2 separate regions of the Homo sapiens genome follow, and region 2 is linked to region 1. Evidence: fine-mapped expression QTL. Tissue or cell type: prefrontal cortex. Region 1 holds a variant in brackets; the other region holds the start of a gene. All regions are shown on one strand. Distances are from middle to middle.

The links. PIP is the estimated chance that this variant, and not a neighbour inherited with it, causes the effect.
Region 2: CRADD starts here. The variant in region 1 is fine-mapped to the expression of CRADD in prefrontal cortex (ROSMAP, PIP 0.93).

The regions. Positions count from the first base shown.
Region 1 is chr12:93,845,033-93,853,138 of GRCh38, forward strand. It overlaps CRADD (CARD and death domain containing adaptor protein), which reads left to right. Exons shown (of 3, transcript NM_003805.5): 3 at 4,938-5,724. The coding sequence ends at 5,239. Among named protein-coding and RNA genes, the nearest start is that of CRADD-AS1, 110 kb to the left of the region's middle. RefSeq lists a silencer at 2,962-3,011 and an enhancer at 3,928-4,027. The variant C/T (reference allele first, on the strand shown) is at 5,045.
Region 2 is chr12:93,673,754-93,681,859 of GRCh38, forward strand. CRADD (CARD and death domain containing adaptor protein) reads left to right here and starts at 3,622. Exons shown (of 3, transcript NM_003805.5): 1 at 3,622-3,719; 2 at 5,016-5,319. The coding sequence starts at 5,022. RefSeq lists enhancers at 2,863-3,678, 3,467-3,706, 3,679-4,493, 5,310-6,124.

The sequences.
Region 1 (8,106 bases):
AGGCCATCTCCTAGTCTCTGTGTTGAGTTACAGGAAAGAGACCATAGGAGTGAGTCTGCCCTGGTTTGGCAGAGTGGGCCCTGGTCTAAGACATTTAACTCCCCTCCAAAAGAGGACAGAGTATAGAGCCCCCAAGGACAGGCCTCATGACTCCTGCCTCTCCTCCATGGCAGAAGTGTTCATGGAAAGCAGCAGCCAACCTAAAGTTGTAGCTCAGAGGTAGAACGACACCTGGTTCCCTATAAAGTGAGGAGAGTGTCAAAAGATACATCAGCTTGCTCTGGGAGAGCAAAGAGCAGTTCTGGACAGAGATGTTCACGTTATAAGTATGAACAAGATGGCAGTGAGTGTCATGACTGTTCTGTGAAATGCTGCAGCAGAGGAATGCAAGAGAGGAGCACAGCTTGTTGGCTGAGCACAGTGGTTCACACCTGTAATCCCAAAACTTTGGGAGGCTGGGTCACGAGGATCAGTTGAGGCCAGGAGTTTGAGACCAGCCTGGGCAACACAGCAAGACCCTGTCTCTATTAAATATATATATATATATTTTTAATAAAGAAAAGAAAGGAACACAGCTTGCAAAAATAAACATACAACCAATCTGGTCTATAAGAAAACCCAGTCCTAGAAAACTCAACCTCACAAGTATTTTATGCTATAGAAAGACTCAGCATCAATTGAGTAGAAACAAAAACTCAAGATGTCATCATGATAAAACAACAATGGGATTCTTTTAATTTTTATTTTTAATTGTGGTAAAATGTACATAACATAGAATTTGCCATTGTAACCATTTTTAAATGTACAATTCAGTTGTGTTAAGTACCTTCACATTGTTTTATAACCAATCTCCAAAAGTCTTCATCTTTCAAAACTGGAACTCTGTACCCATTAAACAATAATTCCCCATTTCTCCCTCCCCCACCCCCTGGCAACCAGCATTCTGCTTTCTGTATCTGAATTCGACAACTCCAAGTACCTCATATGAATAGAATCAGAAAGTATTTGTCCTTTTGTGACTGGCTTATTTTACTTAGTGTAATGTCCTCAAGATTCATCCATGTTGGATCATGTGTCAGAATTTCCATCCTTTTTAAGGCTGAATAATATTCTATTGTATGTCTCTGACATTTTGCGTATCCATTCATCCAGTGGATACTCAGTTTGCTTCCACCTTTGGCTATTGTGAATAACGCTGCTATGAACATAGGTGTACGAATTTCTCTTTGAGTCCCTGCATTCAATTCTTTTGAGTATATACCCAGAAGTGGGATTGCTGGATCATATGCTAATTCTATTTTTAAATTTTTGAGGAACTGCCATACTGTTTTCCACAGCACCTGCACCATTTTCCATTCCCACCAATAGTGCACAAGGGTTCCAATTTCTCCACACCCTTGCCAACATTTGGGACTTACTGTTTTTTGTTTTGTTTTGTTTTGTTTTGATAGTAGCTCTCCTAATGAGTGTGAAGTGGAATGGATTTTTTAAAAGATAGAGCCAAGAAAAGAAATAAAGAACAAAAACACAATACAACGTTAAAACCAGAACACACACACACACACACACACACACACACACACACACACACACGATGGACATAGCTGAAAATCAAAGAGTGAGATAATCCCAAGGAGGGGATTAAAGCAATAAGGACAATATAACAGCCATGGAGGAGAGGCACAGCCATCCAGCATATGGAGCAAGAAAAGAATGCAACCATGTGACCCAGGAAGATTTTCCCAAAAGGAAGAAACAACTGAATCTTTGGTTAGAAGGTTATGCCAGCCAGGCACAGTGGCTCACGCCTGTAGTCCCAGCACTCTGGGAGGCTGAGGCAGGCGGATCACAAGGTCAGGAGATCGAGACCATCCTGGCTAACACAGTGAAACCCCATCTCTACTAAAAATACAAAAAAAAATTAGCCAGGCATGGTAGTAGGCACCTGTAGTCCCAGCTGCTCCGGAGACTGAGGCAGAAGAATGGCATGAACCCAGGAGGCAGAGCTTGCAGTGAGCTGAGATCACGCCACTGCACTCCAGCCTGGATGACAGAGCGAGACTCCGTCTCAGAAAAAAAGAAGGTTATGCCACATATCTGAAAGTGCAGATGTAGAATGGATAACATATACCCTGGTCTAAAGTTTCAGTATTTAGACCTCAGACAGGAAAAGCAAGTTACACAAAATACTGGATGACTAAGTTGGTATCAGAATTCTCCACATCAGCAACCCCTACCATAAAGTACGAACAAGGTCTACAAACTTTTAAGGGAAATAACATTATTTAAATAATATAATTTAAAATTATGAATATAATTTTATATTATACTGTTAAGAATATAAAAAGATAAAAATAATATAAAATTGTTCTCTAAATATTAAGTTATTATTCCAGTGAAGGCAATAAGCAGGATGCCTTGACCTGAAAGAAGTCAAGAGACTATGGCAGTCATGAGCATTGCTTGAAAAAAAAAAAAAAAAAAAAAAACCTCCCTGTGATGAAATTGACCCAAATGACTCAAATCAGAAGAACAGACCCAGGAGTAGAAAAGCCACAGATGAAGAACAGTAACAACAGCAACAACAACAAAACACTGGTGAGCATTCAACCATTACAATGCCACCTTAGGACTAAACAATGGGGCAAGGGGGCATGGATGATTGTTAAAGAAATGTATAACTATTAGGCATCTGGCAAAATAAAAATTATGTAAGTGAAAAAAAATCAAGTGTGAGGAAGTGGAGAGGAAATGTAAAGTAATTATAGAGTATTTCTATAAAAACATGCAGTTAACCCTTGAGTTTTCGTAACTTTTTTCTGTGCATTAAATTGTGTGTGTGTATGTTTTCAAGTATGTTAACTTGTAACCGCTGGTCAGAATGTCATTTTGTTTCACTTCTGCTTTTTCTTCTGTTACATCCAAACAAAATTACATAGCTCTTACTGGAAAGAAAAGGTCATATGTTATCATTTTAAATGAACCCATTACCCTCTATCTAGCCTTCTACCAGTGTATGTGCATACAGAGATATCCAGAATGATGGTCACCAACTGTAAACACAATAGCGGGATATTGGATGATTTCTTTTCTTCTTTGCGCTGTTTTCTGTTGCTTTATTTTTTTTTTAATGAGCCTATGTTTTTATACAAGCCGTAAAATCATTGCTGTTAATCTCAACTATTGATCAGTAGTGTCATCAGTATTCTAATTGCGTCATAGTCATTGTTTTTTAAATTGTAGTGTTGACAAACACCAGAAAGAGCCCTTGACAATATTTTTGCAACTCATCTCTAAGGTGCTGGCCGCTGCCCAGAGGCCAAAGACATGGGCTGTGGAAAACATCAGCTCTTGTAATAAGGTGCCTTTGCCTTCTTATTGAATCATAAATCAAAACACAATAGTGGACTGATGAGCATGAAGTAGACTGACCTGAATCCCTGTGATGCTGATGGATGGGAGTATAGTGTACTGTGCTGTCAAACAAATGTCTGAACCTAGCAAATGACTTTGGATGTTTGGAGTCCGTCTCAATCTCTGCACTTGGCTGCTGTGAGTGCCTTTCACTTCCTCCATTGCGATTCTCCTGCCTCTGGGCCTTTGCACATGCAATTCTCTCTTCTCGAGATGCGCCACGCCCTGTTCCTCCTTCATCACCCAGCTCCTCCTCCTAGTGTTCAGGGCTTAGCTTTAGCCTCCTTCCCCTGGAAGGCCTTCCCTAATGAAGTTAGGAGCTCCTCTGTATAACCAAAGGCACTGCTCACTGGTTTTGCTGGGCACATTTATAACCATTCACTCAATGTCATGCTTCTTAGCAGACTGGCCTCAGGCAAATAAGAATCTAGTTCAGGAAGTGTAAGGTCAGATTTCCTCGTTGCCCCGTCTCATACTTCCTGTTCCTCTTCTGGGCTCTGCCAGAACGGTAACTCCACTCTTGTGGCCTCTGCTATGAACAAACCCCGCTCTCTTCCCTTCCTGCTACCCTATGGCCTCTTAGGTTTATTTTGTTCTCAGCAGCCCTCTTGGCTCTGGCTTCTGTTAGCAGCTACACGTTTTCTCGGTAATATTTCAAGTTCAACCTCATCGGCGAGGGTAGCTGTTTGGTTTAGCCTTTGTCCTCTAGCACGTGCCTTTCCTGCAGGGAGGGGCATTCCCAGCCTTGGAACAGGCCCCATCACTAAGGCCACAGACAGTGCCAGAGGGAGCTGGGGTCTGTGCAGCCATTCTTGAATTCCCCCAGAATGCCTTGCCTGGCCTTGAGTAAAAGGGATAGAAGTGAAAAAAGCCTGTTACAAAGCAGCATGTACGAGGTAACCCTTCATGTGTGTTTTATATATCAAAGAAAATAGACTAGTTATTATCAATGAGTTTTTCTGGTGGGATTTCTAGTTATTTTTATTTTGTTGCTTTCAAAGTTTCTGTAACAGGCAGGGTGCTGTGGCTCACGCCTGTAATCCTAGCACTTTGGGAGGCCAAGGCAGGTGGATCACCTGAGGTCAGGAGTTCAAGACCAGCCTGGCCAACATGGTGAAACCCTGTCTCTGCTAAAAATACAAAAATTAGCTGGGCATGGTGGCAGTTGCCTGTAATCCCAGCTACTTGGGAGGCTGAAACAGGAGAATCACTTCAACCCAGGAGGTGGAGTTTGTAGTGAGCCAACATCATGCCATTGCTCTCCAGCCTGGGTGACAGAGTGAAACACCGTCTCAAAAAAAAAAAAAAAAAAAGTTTCTGTAAAAACATTTTCACAGATACTTAACAGCATTGAAGCCCTGAATCATGGCGTTGTACAGAGCAGCCCCCAGGAAGAAGACAAGAGCCAATTGGCTCTGCCATTTGGAAGCATTGCCTTCTTCTCCCCACGATTCTCATTTCTGCCCCCAAATGATGTGTTTGTTGCCTTGCTCATTTCACCGGGGTGTCTTTTTCCTCCTCAGGTGACAGATTGACTGGGATCCCCTCGCACATCCTCAACAGCTCCCCATCAGACCGGCAGATTAACCAGCTGGCCCAGAGGCTGGGCCCTGAGTGGGAGCCCATGGTG[C/T]TGTCTCTGGGACTGTCCCAGACGGATATCTACCGCTGTAAGGCCAACCACCCCCACAACGTGCAGTCGCAGGTGGTGGAGGCCTTCATCCGTTGGCGGCAGCGCTTCGGGAAGCAGGCCACCTTCCAGAGCCTGCACAACGGGCTGCGGGCTGTGGAGGTGGACCCCTCGCTGCTCCTGCACATGTTGGAGTGATGGTGCCTCCAGCAACCGCTGGGGAGTGTGTCCCTGAGTCATGTGGGCTGAATCCTGACTTTCACTCAGAGCAGGTGGTTTTTTGTGTAGGTTTGTTTTTTATTTTTGATGATCTTCAGATGGAAGGAGAAAACAGGGTTTCCACTAGACATTACTTGAAAGGCCAGATTACTCAGCAGATCTCCCATGTTGGCTCAACAATTCTTTGTTTTTAATTGCTTGAAGATTGCATTGTTGTAATTGTTCAGTTTTTAAATGTGTAATGGCATTTTAATAGACTAGTAAATCACAGTGGTTCAAAATATATATCCATATATATATATATCCATATATATATCTCATGTCATCACATTACAGGCAGGTGTCTCATATGTAAAACATTTACCTGAATGTTGTCTGAGGACTGAACTGTGGACTTTACTATTCATAATGATAAAATAATAAAATGCGAATTACTATATATAATGTGCCTCACTCATGAGAAAGTACCGTGTTGGGTTTTTTTTTTTCTTTCTCATTCCTGTGTTGCATAGATTAAGGGTGTAAAATTACAATAGTCTTTTTTTTCTTTTTGGAACAGAATTAATAGTAACAGTGAAATGGTTACTTTCCCAAGTCAGGATAAATAGCTCAGGCAGGATGTCTGTATTAAATATTGTAAGACACTAAAGCTCCCTGCAAAGACCAGTTCAAGGACCAGCATGCATACCCGAGCCCTTCATCTTTAAAAGATCGCTCGAGAAAATCCTGTGCTGTTTATTGAAAGCATTAAGTCAGGGGACGAGAGGGGGTGTGGTCTTTCCATTGAAGCCAGAATGACTGAAGTGTTGTGCTCCTAAGGAGTATGATTTAGTCTTCTGTCCTTTTATCAATAGCACATGGTGTTTATAGAATGCTTTACTGTTTTCACGGCTTTTCCTGTATGTGATCTCATTTGGACCTCTCAGCAATGCTGTGGGGCAGTGGGCAAGGTGGTTCACCTCCTTCTGTACAGAGATTGAGTGATTGGCCCAGGGTGAATGAGGTTGGGTGCCGGCTCCTGAGCCTTTCCAACTGCTCCACAGGGCTCCTCCCCTTCTCTCTTGCATGCTCATTGAAGAAGCTTGAATCCTGCTCCCCGCCTACTAGGTGTATGGCCTTGGACAAGTTACTTACCCTCTCTACACCTCAGTTTCCTCATTGGCAGAATGGGGAAATGATTGTACTCACCTCTGAGGTCTTTGTGATGATTAAAGCAATAATGTCCGCCAACAGCACATCCAGATGCAGCTCATTGTCAGCTTTCAGGAAATGGTAGCTGTTAATTTGCCGCCACTGTGGCTGAAGGTATGGTTAGACCACAGGCAAAGCTGAATAGTGGCTGAAAGCTGAGGGCACTGTGGGAGGAGCTACTATTGCCACATTTCTTACTAAGCTTTAAAATGGGATTTGATTTTATAAACTTTACAATGGGGCCAGTCTGTGATCTATCCTTCTTAATAATTACGGAATCTGTTTCCTAATTCTAACATAACTCAGGATTTTTCAAAAGGGAGAAAAAAATCATGTTTTTTATTTCTCTCCATTCCAAGAATAAATTTATGGAATGGTAGAATTGAGCACGAAGTGGGTACTTAAAAAGATGACAATAGTGTGTGGATAACATCCTTTCAGGCATCTTGTAACCATATTCCTGTTACTAAAAAAGAGCTGCTATGCCACAGTTTATTCTTCCAGTGAATTCGGTTCAAAAGGATAGTCTACTGGCCTTATCAGTTCAAATTTTTCATTTTGTAGCCCAGCCAATAATTCATTATCTTATAAAATTCTCATGCTTTTGGCCATATCACTGTGCCCAGTGATAGACTGTACTGCTGTGGCATCTTCAGTGAATCACTTGTCATTTTGAACCTGGGACTTATTACATTGCTGTCTTCCCCCTGGGTTTCCTAATAGAGAGTTGCTTTGGCTTTTGTTCTCACAGCTCAGAGTCACATTCATGGATGAGTGAGTAGAGCTGGGCTCTGCTGCGTCTGACTAGATGGCATTTTAGAAGCAGGTCTGATGATTAGCTGGGTCATCTTTCCGCCATTCACCATTTGCAAGGAATCTGTCACGCATAAAGACACTCGTGGGCTCTGTCAGCAGTGAGAGACAATTAGTGAAGAACAAGCCCACGATGGGCCAGACAGACAGGGCCGAGGGGGCCCTTAGAGACCTCTGACTTGTTGCCCTTCACAAGCAGAGTGTCTTCACCACCAAATGGCGGCAGCCCCTCCCTGGCCTGCTCACGTGCTTGCAGAAGATTTGCAGAGTGGAAGAACAGAGCAGCTGAATCCCTATCTTGGTACTACCTCTGGCCATGAAGAATAATGCTACATAGCAGCTGCCTACCTCCTAACAGAACTGGGGAGGTGAAGAGCCTGCAGGGATTTCCTGTGTTTGTATGGGAGAAGATTCTACAATTTCAGAGACTGTTTATCCCCAAGAAAACTGAATGAATGCAGCGAGGTGGCAAGAGCATTTGCCGGCACTGACAGAAAGTATATGAATATATAGTCTTGCACCACTTTGGGTTGGGTTGGAGTGTGTGTGTGTGTGTGTGTGTGTGTGTGCATATGCATGCATGAGTGTGGCCCTTCATGTTTTTAAAACTATAACTTTTATTAATTTTTTCAACATGAAGTACATGTTTATTATGGCAGTTTGAAAAAAAACACAATAAGATGAAGAAAAATAAGAATTACCCCTACTCCCATCTAAGCACTGTACATCCCAATTTTTATCCCTGTCCTCCAATTAGTTTTCTCTGCCTGCATATCCTTTTCATAAAAAGAATAGGATTTTCTCTGCATTTCCTTATAAAAAGTGTTATATTTTCCAACTGA
Region 2 (8,106 bases), 170 kb before region 1:
TTTAATAAATGTTTCAAGTATGCTTGAAAAGACTCTGGTTTTCCCCATGACTTAATTTCTACATCAATGAAACAGGAAGAACCAAAACATCCAATTCCTTTTATTTATTTTTTGAAGGCTGCAAAACCAAAGACCAAACCGAAAGAGAAAAATACTGCATTTGTTCTTTTTGACTCTTTATTTTGCAAACTCACAATAGGGATATCTTGACACAAGTAAACATACTAGGGGAGAGAGAAAAATGAAAATATCTGTCCTTCCTGTGGATTCGTTACCACTGGGTAACAGGTGCTTAATCCTCCGTGGGGGCACAATTTCAGATTACAGAGGGTCTGGCCAGAGCGGAGGAGTAACCACCTGTGATAATGATTCTGATCTGTGTTCCATTCCTTAGAAGCCCTCTGGCCTTAGCTAATCTGTCTAAGTAAAGTTGGGTCTTTGGTGTACTGCCATGAAGTATCGCTGTATGCTGAGGTGGGGTGGCTGATGGCAGTGGGCTAGTCGTTCAGCCTAGTTGCTTAAGAGACAGCATGGATCCTCATCTGTATTTGCCATGGGAAGAGGCATTCGATGATTAAAGACTTCACGCTGCAGATTTAAGTCAGATCTTTAATGGCCACCCTTTCAGGTTGTTTACCATAGGACGCCATGCCCCTCGGCTGCTGCCCTGACACTCTCCTGCTGTCTCTGGCTGCTTCTCTTCTGTGAACCCTCACGGATCCTATTGTTGGTTCCCCACCTCCTCCTGGGCATCATCATCAAGGCTCACCTTCTAGCTTCTAGGAGATCTCAAGCCTTTCCAAATATGATGAGTCATCAAGAAATATGAAACTTTATATGGGCGTTTATTGCGCTATTTGTTTCAACTTTCCTATATGTTTGAAATTTATCGAAGTTCACAGTTAGAAAAAAATCCACTTGCTTTTCCTCTCTAAAAAAGTTAGTATAGGTTGATGATCCCTTACCCAACATGCTTGGGACCAGAAGTGTTTTGGATTTTGGATTTTTTGGGATTTTGGAATATTTGCATATACATAATGAGGTAACTTGGGGATGGGACCCAAGTTTAAGCACAAAACTTATGTTTCATATATACTTTTTATACACATAGCCTGAAAGTAACTTTATACAATATTTTAAATAATTTTGCACATGAAACAAAGGTTTGTGTTTTGACTGAGACCCATCACATAAGGTCAGGTGTGGAATTTTCCACTTGTGGCGTCATGTTGACACCCAAAAAGCTTCAGGTTTTGGAGCATTTCTTTTTCTTTCTTTTTTTTTTTTTTTCTGAGACAGGGTCTCTCTCTGTCGCCCAGGCCGGAGTGCAGTGGCATGATCTTGTTTCACTGCAAACTCCACCTCCCGGGTTCAATTGATTCTCCACCTCAGCCTCCTGAGAAGCTGGGACTACAGGCGTACACAAGCATGGCTGGCTAATTTTTTGTATTTTTTGTAGAGATGGGATTTCCCTATGTTGCCCAGGCTGGCCCTGAACTCCTGGGCTCAAACGATCTGCCTGCCTTGGCTTCCCAAAATGCTGAGATTACAGGTGTCAGCCACCACTCTCAGGCAGGTTTTGGAGGATTCTGGATTTCAAATTTTTGTATTAGGGATGTTTAACCTGTAAACTTCAACGCTTGGCAGTGTTGCAAGTGGTCTGCACTTTATCTGGATGAAGACAAAGAATGGTGCTAACATTTGTCTATGAACAGATGGGAAATCTTGCTGAGGAAAGGACAATGATTCTCAAGCAAAAGGGGAAAAGGGAGAGAGAAAAGAGAGCACCTGGAACTCAAGAGTATCAAGAATGGGAGGTGGCAACAGGATGATTTGCAAATAATATTTGGCTATCATTAGAACAATAAACTCTTCACTATACAAGGTTGTATGGTGTATTGGAAAGAGCATGAAATCAGAGAAACTTCATTAGACTTCAAGTTTTGCTCTATATTAGCTGTGAGATTTTGCCTAAGACAATTGACCATTCTGATTCCACAGTCTTTATACATGCAAATGCTAAAACAGTTGTAACAGTGGAGATACATTGTGAAAAATGTGTCATTGTGCAAACAAAATAGGATGTACTTATGCAAACCTAGATGGTATAGCCTACTACATACTTAGGCCATATAGCATAGCCTATTGCTCTGACCACCATCATATATGCAGTCTGTCATTGACCCAAATATTGTTATGCAATGCATGACTGTAATAATAATAATACTTGCCACATAGGTAAAAATACTGTCATTAACGGTGTAGTAAAATGGTAACTGGCATAGTAATGCTGTAAATTGAATACAATTTTTAGAAGGTTTTGAGGAGGGAGGTTCAGAACTGTTCTCCATTGATTTGCTTAACAAAGATATTTTCATTTTCCACCAAAGGGTTTGGCTGTGAAAACCTTTGCAGAAATAATATTTTAGGAGTTTTTTCCCCCTGTACTGTCAACTGATTTTTAGTAAGCATATGACTTTCTGTATGTATCATCCAATTGATTTAAAAATGAATCAATGAATGTATTTATTGATCGCCTGCCTCGCTTCACAAAGGAATGTGAGGAAGGACACCCAATTTGGCATTGCTGTGTTTCTCTGTATTTGGGTCATGCATTTTTTCTTGCTTTCCACATTGAAAATGTGGTGGATGCAGTAGATTGGCTTTAAGTGTCAGGCCTTCCCTCATTTACTATACCTTTTTGTGTTTCACAAGCTGGAAAGCTACCAACTACATGCTCTAGACATCCTTGCTGCTAATATTCTGCATGTCAGATTGGTCTCACCAATGGCACGCAGCAAAGCAAGATTTGCAGGTGCTGTTTTCTTGCTGCTGGCAAATGCAGCCGTGGAGACCACCGTTTTTTGCAGCACTGTTCCAGTGTCCTGTTAATTGTTCTGTCGGTGTTGAGAGGAGGTTGGGGACCAGGCATGGCAACTTCCTGACGCCATCTTCCTGATTGTGGGCAGCAGCCACAATCAGCAATCTTATCTAGGTAGTCATCCATGGATGTTCAGCTCAGCCCTTCTCCAGCCTTTCCAATGATTTCGAATGTCCCCAATTCCCCCTAACGAATCCCTTTCTGACTAGGAGTAACTAGCTGAGTGCTGCAATGAAATCCTGACTGACAGATTTGTAAACTCTTTGCGGGCAGGAACCCTTGATATAAATAAATGACCTTGCATTTTAATGGAGGGAAGCAGAAGGATAAACAAATGAATAAGTGAAAAGTTTTAATAAGATGGTGATGCGTAAAAAATAAAGCTGGTTAATGGGGAGTGCAGGAAATGAGCGCAGCTGTCTTGCCGTTTTAATCAGATAGGTCAGAGAAGGCTTCTCTACTAGGGTGGCTTTTGACCTGCCTCTCTGTTAGGTCAATTGTGTGCGAGGCCCTGATGGAGTTACTGTGTTAAAATGCAATGATTCAATTACTCCATTACTTAGATACCCTTTAAGTGACACTACGGTTGTCCATCTCCCCGCTATTGAATTGTTTACCCACAGTAAGCATGGCGGGAAGAGCTTCGATCCGACCCTTGAACGCTCAATAAAAATGGCGACAGCACTTCCTGTACTTGCCCTCAACAAAGATGGTGTCAACACTTCCTGTTTAGGGTTTTCGCCATTAACAAAGATGGTGCTTATGGGGCAGGTTCCCTAACAGTCAGGATTCCGGTTGCAGTTTTTCTCCCCCGCCCCAAAGATACGTGGTTGCAGACGTAAGTAACAGGAATCCATCTTTCTTTGAAAGTCCTGCATTGTAGCGTCTGCGACCTGGGCCCTGCGGGGGCTTCCCCGCCCCGCTAACTTGCTCCGCATTTCCGATCCGGGCCAAGGCTGGGTGGCTGCGGCAGTGCCGGAGGCCCGCTCTCCCCTTGGTCCGCTCTTTAGTTCATTCCCAGCACTCCCTCTTTAGCGGGTCAAGTTGCCGCAGAAACCGCCCGTAGTCTTCCTGTTTGATACAAGGGTTTCAGCGGCCGAAGCAGAGCCTTTTTAAATAGTTCCCAATGGGCGCTCACGGCCAAACGTGAACACCTCCCCTCCTCACCTGTCACCTCCTGAACTTTACAGGGTTGCGAGGGGGAGTGTGGGATCGGGTGTCGCCTAGCCGTGGTCGTACTGCCCGGGTGTGTCTGAAGCCCCATCTGTCATCCCTGCCTGCCTTCCCGGTCACTTAACCTTCACTGCCTTACACACAACCAAGCCACAGCACACTGGTGCAGGGGTGGTGGAACTGCACCTTCAAATCGTGCCTGGCTACTGACCAGTGCTGGGGTGTGTGCTTTTTTTGAAAGAAAAAAATCCCATAAAATGTCCCATGCATGTGCGGCCACGACAGTGTTGTGCTGGAGATTCGGAATTCTTAGTGGGAAGGAATGGAGTCTGTGACTGTATATTGTGTAAAGTTTATTGTAGACTGGGCACAAACAACAATTTTCTTAAAGGTGATCGTGTAGAGGACTTTTAGCGAAAAGAGCCTTAAATTCTGAACCTGCTGATTTCTGTCCTGCACTCCTATTACTGATCAGGTTTTGCAAATACTTGTGATCAAAAAAAGGGGACCTGCGTCCACCTTGGCAGTTTCTGCCTTGGTGGTGGTGGTGCAGGTCTGATGAGGGCAATGTGAAAATAAAACCACCATTTCTTCTCCAGCGTGTTAAAATTAGTGCTGCTCTGTAATCTTCAGATAAAAATTGCTTGTTCAGAAGGGTCTCTGACCCACTTTTTTTTTTTCTTTTTCCAAATTTCTTTATTGAACGAGGAATTGAGCTGGGACCCCATTGTGTGAAAAGCAGAAACAGAAAAGATGATTCATCTTCATTGTTGTTCATTATGTTAGGAAACATTCAAAATTAACCTGGCTTGGCTTAATCAGTGAATTAAATACCATGACCTGGCAGTCTGCTATGGTTTAAAGATGTGCTTGACCTGAAGGAACTTACATTGCAGTGACACTGTCTTTAGGGCCACATCAACATGTCTGTAATTTGAGCTGTGATTTTGGCTCTTTCCAGGGAGAAATGGAGGCCAGAGACAAACAAGTACTCCGCTCACTTCGCCTGGAGCTGGGTGCAGAGGTATTGGTGGAGGGACTGGTTCTTCAGTACCTCTACCAGGAAGGAATCTTGACGGAAAACCATATTCAAGAAATCAATGCTCAAACCACAGGCCTCCGGAAAACAATGCTCCTGCTGGATATCCTACCTTCCAGGGGCCCTAAAGCATTTGATACATTCCTAGATTCCCTACAGGAGTTTCCCTGGGTCAGGGAGAAGCTGAAGAAGGCAAGGGAAGAGGCCATGACCGACCTGCCTGCAGGTAGGCCTCAGAAAGATCACTTTGAACCAGCTCCAAAATGTTGTAACTATGCTCTTTGCTTTTTTGTTTATTTGTTTGTTTGTTTTTGAGACAGAGTCTTGCTCTGTTGCCCAGGCTGGAGTGCAATGGTGTGATCTCGGCTCACTGCAACCTCTGCTTCCTGGGTTCAAGCAATTCACTTGCTTCAGCCTCCCGAGTTGCTGGGAATACAGGCATTTGCCACCATGCCCTGCTAAGTTTTGTATTTTTAGTAGAGATGGGGTTTCATCATGTTGGCCAGGCTGGTCTCGAACTCCGTACCTCAGGTGATCCACCCACCTCCGCCTCCCAAAGTGCTGGGATTACAGACGTGAGCCACCACACCTAGCCAGAACTATGCCCTTTGGATTTGAAGTTGGGATGTAAGGCAGGACAAGGGTCAATGGTTGATGAAAGTGGGTAAGGATTTGGGACTGAAGGGACATGACGTTGGAGGAATAGGATCAGGAGGTGGCATTAGGAAGTGCAGGGAAGGAAGAATGAACCGTGACTGGGAGGTGAGGGAGGGAGCTCAGAGAATGCATTTAGAAATGCTTCCAGGAAACCTGGCATGTCACTTGGGAAGCATGTTCTCATCAGAGAGCCAGGTCATATCTCAGCCGTTGGCATCAGGAGCCATTTGGAAAGTGCAGATGGGAAAGCAGGCATTCGGCCTACTGACAACTGATTTGTGAGGTGCCAGAGCTACCAGCTGGAAAAGGTCAGATTCATGGAGGAGGAGACAGCCTCTAGGAAGGCATGCCCTGCACCTGTCCCCTGGGCTGTCCTGTGTGGCCAAAGGGGATTATTTTGAAGGCTGACTTAGTTTGTTTTTAAAGGTTATTCGTTTAAAGTGTCCTTTTTAGTTTAGCTTTGTTCAGACACTGGAGTATTTAATTTTGCAAAGAGCAATAGTTTGGGGAGGGTCTCAGTTTAATTTGAAGGAGAATTGGAAGCTGGAGAAGAGAGAAACAGTTCTGGTTCTGTTAGCCTGGCTTGTAGCAGGAAGAAGATGTGATATGGAAACACTTGCTTTTTCTTAACCTCCCTTGACTCTGTTTCACAAAGATAGAGGGGCAGAGAACTGAACTGGCAAAAATTAAAAATTGAAAAAAAAAAGTAATTGAAAGTTGGCTTGCAAATTTTTAACAAAGTTAGAGAATCAAGGTTCTCTGGGGTTTCTGATAAGAGTGATAGAACTATTCCGGTTCAGTGGGCCCCAGACTTCGTGGTTGCTATTTTTTAAATACTGGTTAAAAAAAATGAATACTGATAATAAGACCACTTTTACTATTTTTGCTCCATGGACCTCATATTTTGACATATGTCTGAATACCTGATCAGCATGACATAGCCAGCTAACTTTAGGAAGACCTGGTAAGATCCCAGTGGAAAAAGCAAAAGTATTTTCATTCCTAGTCTGGGCTCGTTACAGTTAAATGTATCTTTAGGCTTTTTGAAATATTAGACATAGCTGGCTTTTGAGGACCACTGGAATTCACTGCTTGGATTGTCCTTACAAAATTAAATACTCCACATGTCTGAACAAAATGTATCTAGATGTTTTTATGACTTTATTGAAAGCAGAATAGATAACATAGAGTTGGAGAAATGTTAAAAAATTATTGGTGTTTTCCTGATATTTGACTTAGAGGTTTCTGCTGGCATCATATAGTTGGAAACAACAAAACAGGTGAACTGAAAGCCTTTCACTATCAAAATACTGAATTTAATTTTATGGTCATTTTGGGTGATACAGATCATGCTGTTGTATGTCATTCGTAGAGGTATAATACCATTTTTTTTTTTTTGAGACGGAGTTTCACTCTTGTTGCCCAGGCTGGAGTGCAATGGCGCGATCTCGGCTCTCTGCAACCTCTGCCTCCCGGGTTTAAGCAATTCTTCTGCCTCAGCCTCCCGAGTAGCTGGGATTACAGGCATGTGCCACCATGCTCGGCTAATTTTGTATTTTTAGTAGAGATGGGGTTTCTCCATGTTGGTCAGGCTGGTCTTAAACTCCCGACCTCAGGTGATCCGCCCACCTCGGCCTCCCAAAGTGCTGGGATTACAGGCGTGAGCCACCATGCTCGGCCATAACCCCATTATTTCTTCAGATTCATTCAGAGAGTTAGAAAGAATTAAGGCATTTTTTACAAAATGATGAGAGTTACAGAGAAGCTGAGGAAAAATAGCTTTTTAAAAAAGCAAACAGAATGAAGCAGTACATAATGGGAAAAAAATTGAGCATATCTGTGTAGAAGTTTAGAAAAATAAGGTTTTTCTCAAGATTTGTTAATTCTGTAGAAGGTTGGCTCTGGAACAAATTCGTACAGTCATCTTAATTGTTTTACTTTTTACTGAGTAACACTGCTATTGAAAAAAACATTCTGAAGTGAGGGTTTGATTTATATATGTCTTTGAATACCTTCCACGGTGACAATCACATAAACTCTTTTAAAAAAGACTTGTATTTATTAAATATTGACTATTTTAAATAATATTACAAAATATAAGTAAGATATGGAGAATAATGGTACAGCGAACACCCGTCTCCTCATCACTCAGTTTAAGAAAAATAATATTACGATTGCCTTTAAAAACCCCGGGCACTCCTTCCCAATCTTGTCTCATTCCCAACCCCCACGCAGTGAAAAGCCCTGAATTGGGGGTTTATCATTCATTCACTTCTTCACTTTATAGTTTCCTATCTCCTAAAAATCACTTTTAAAATCTTCATATGTTTTTGAAAATCCTGTATACCGTAAGTTC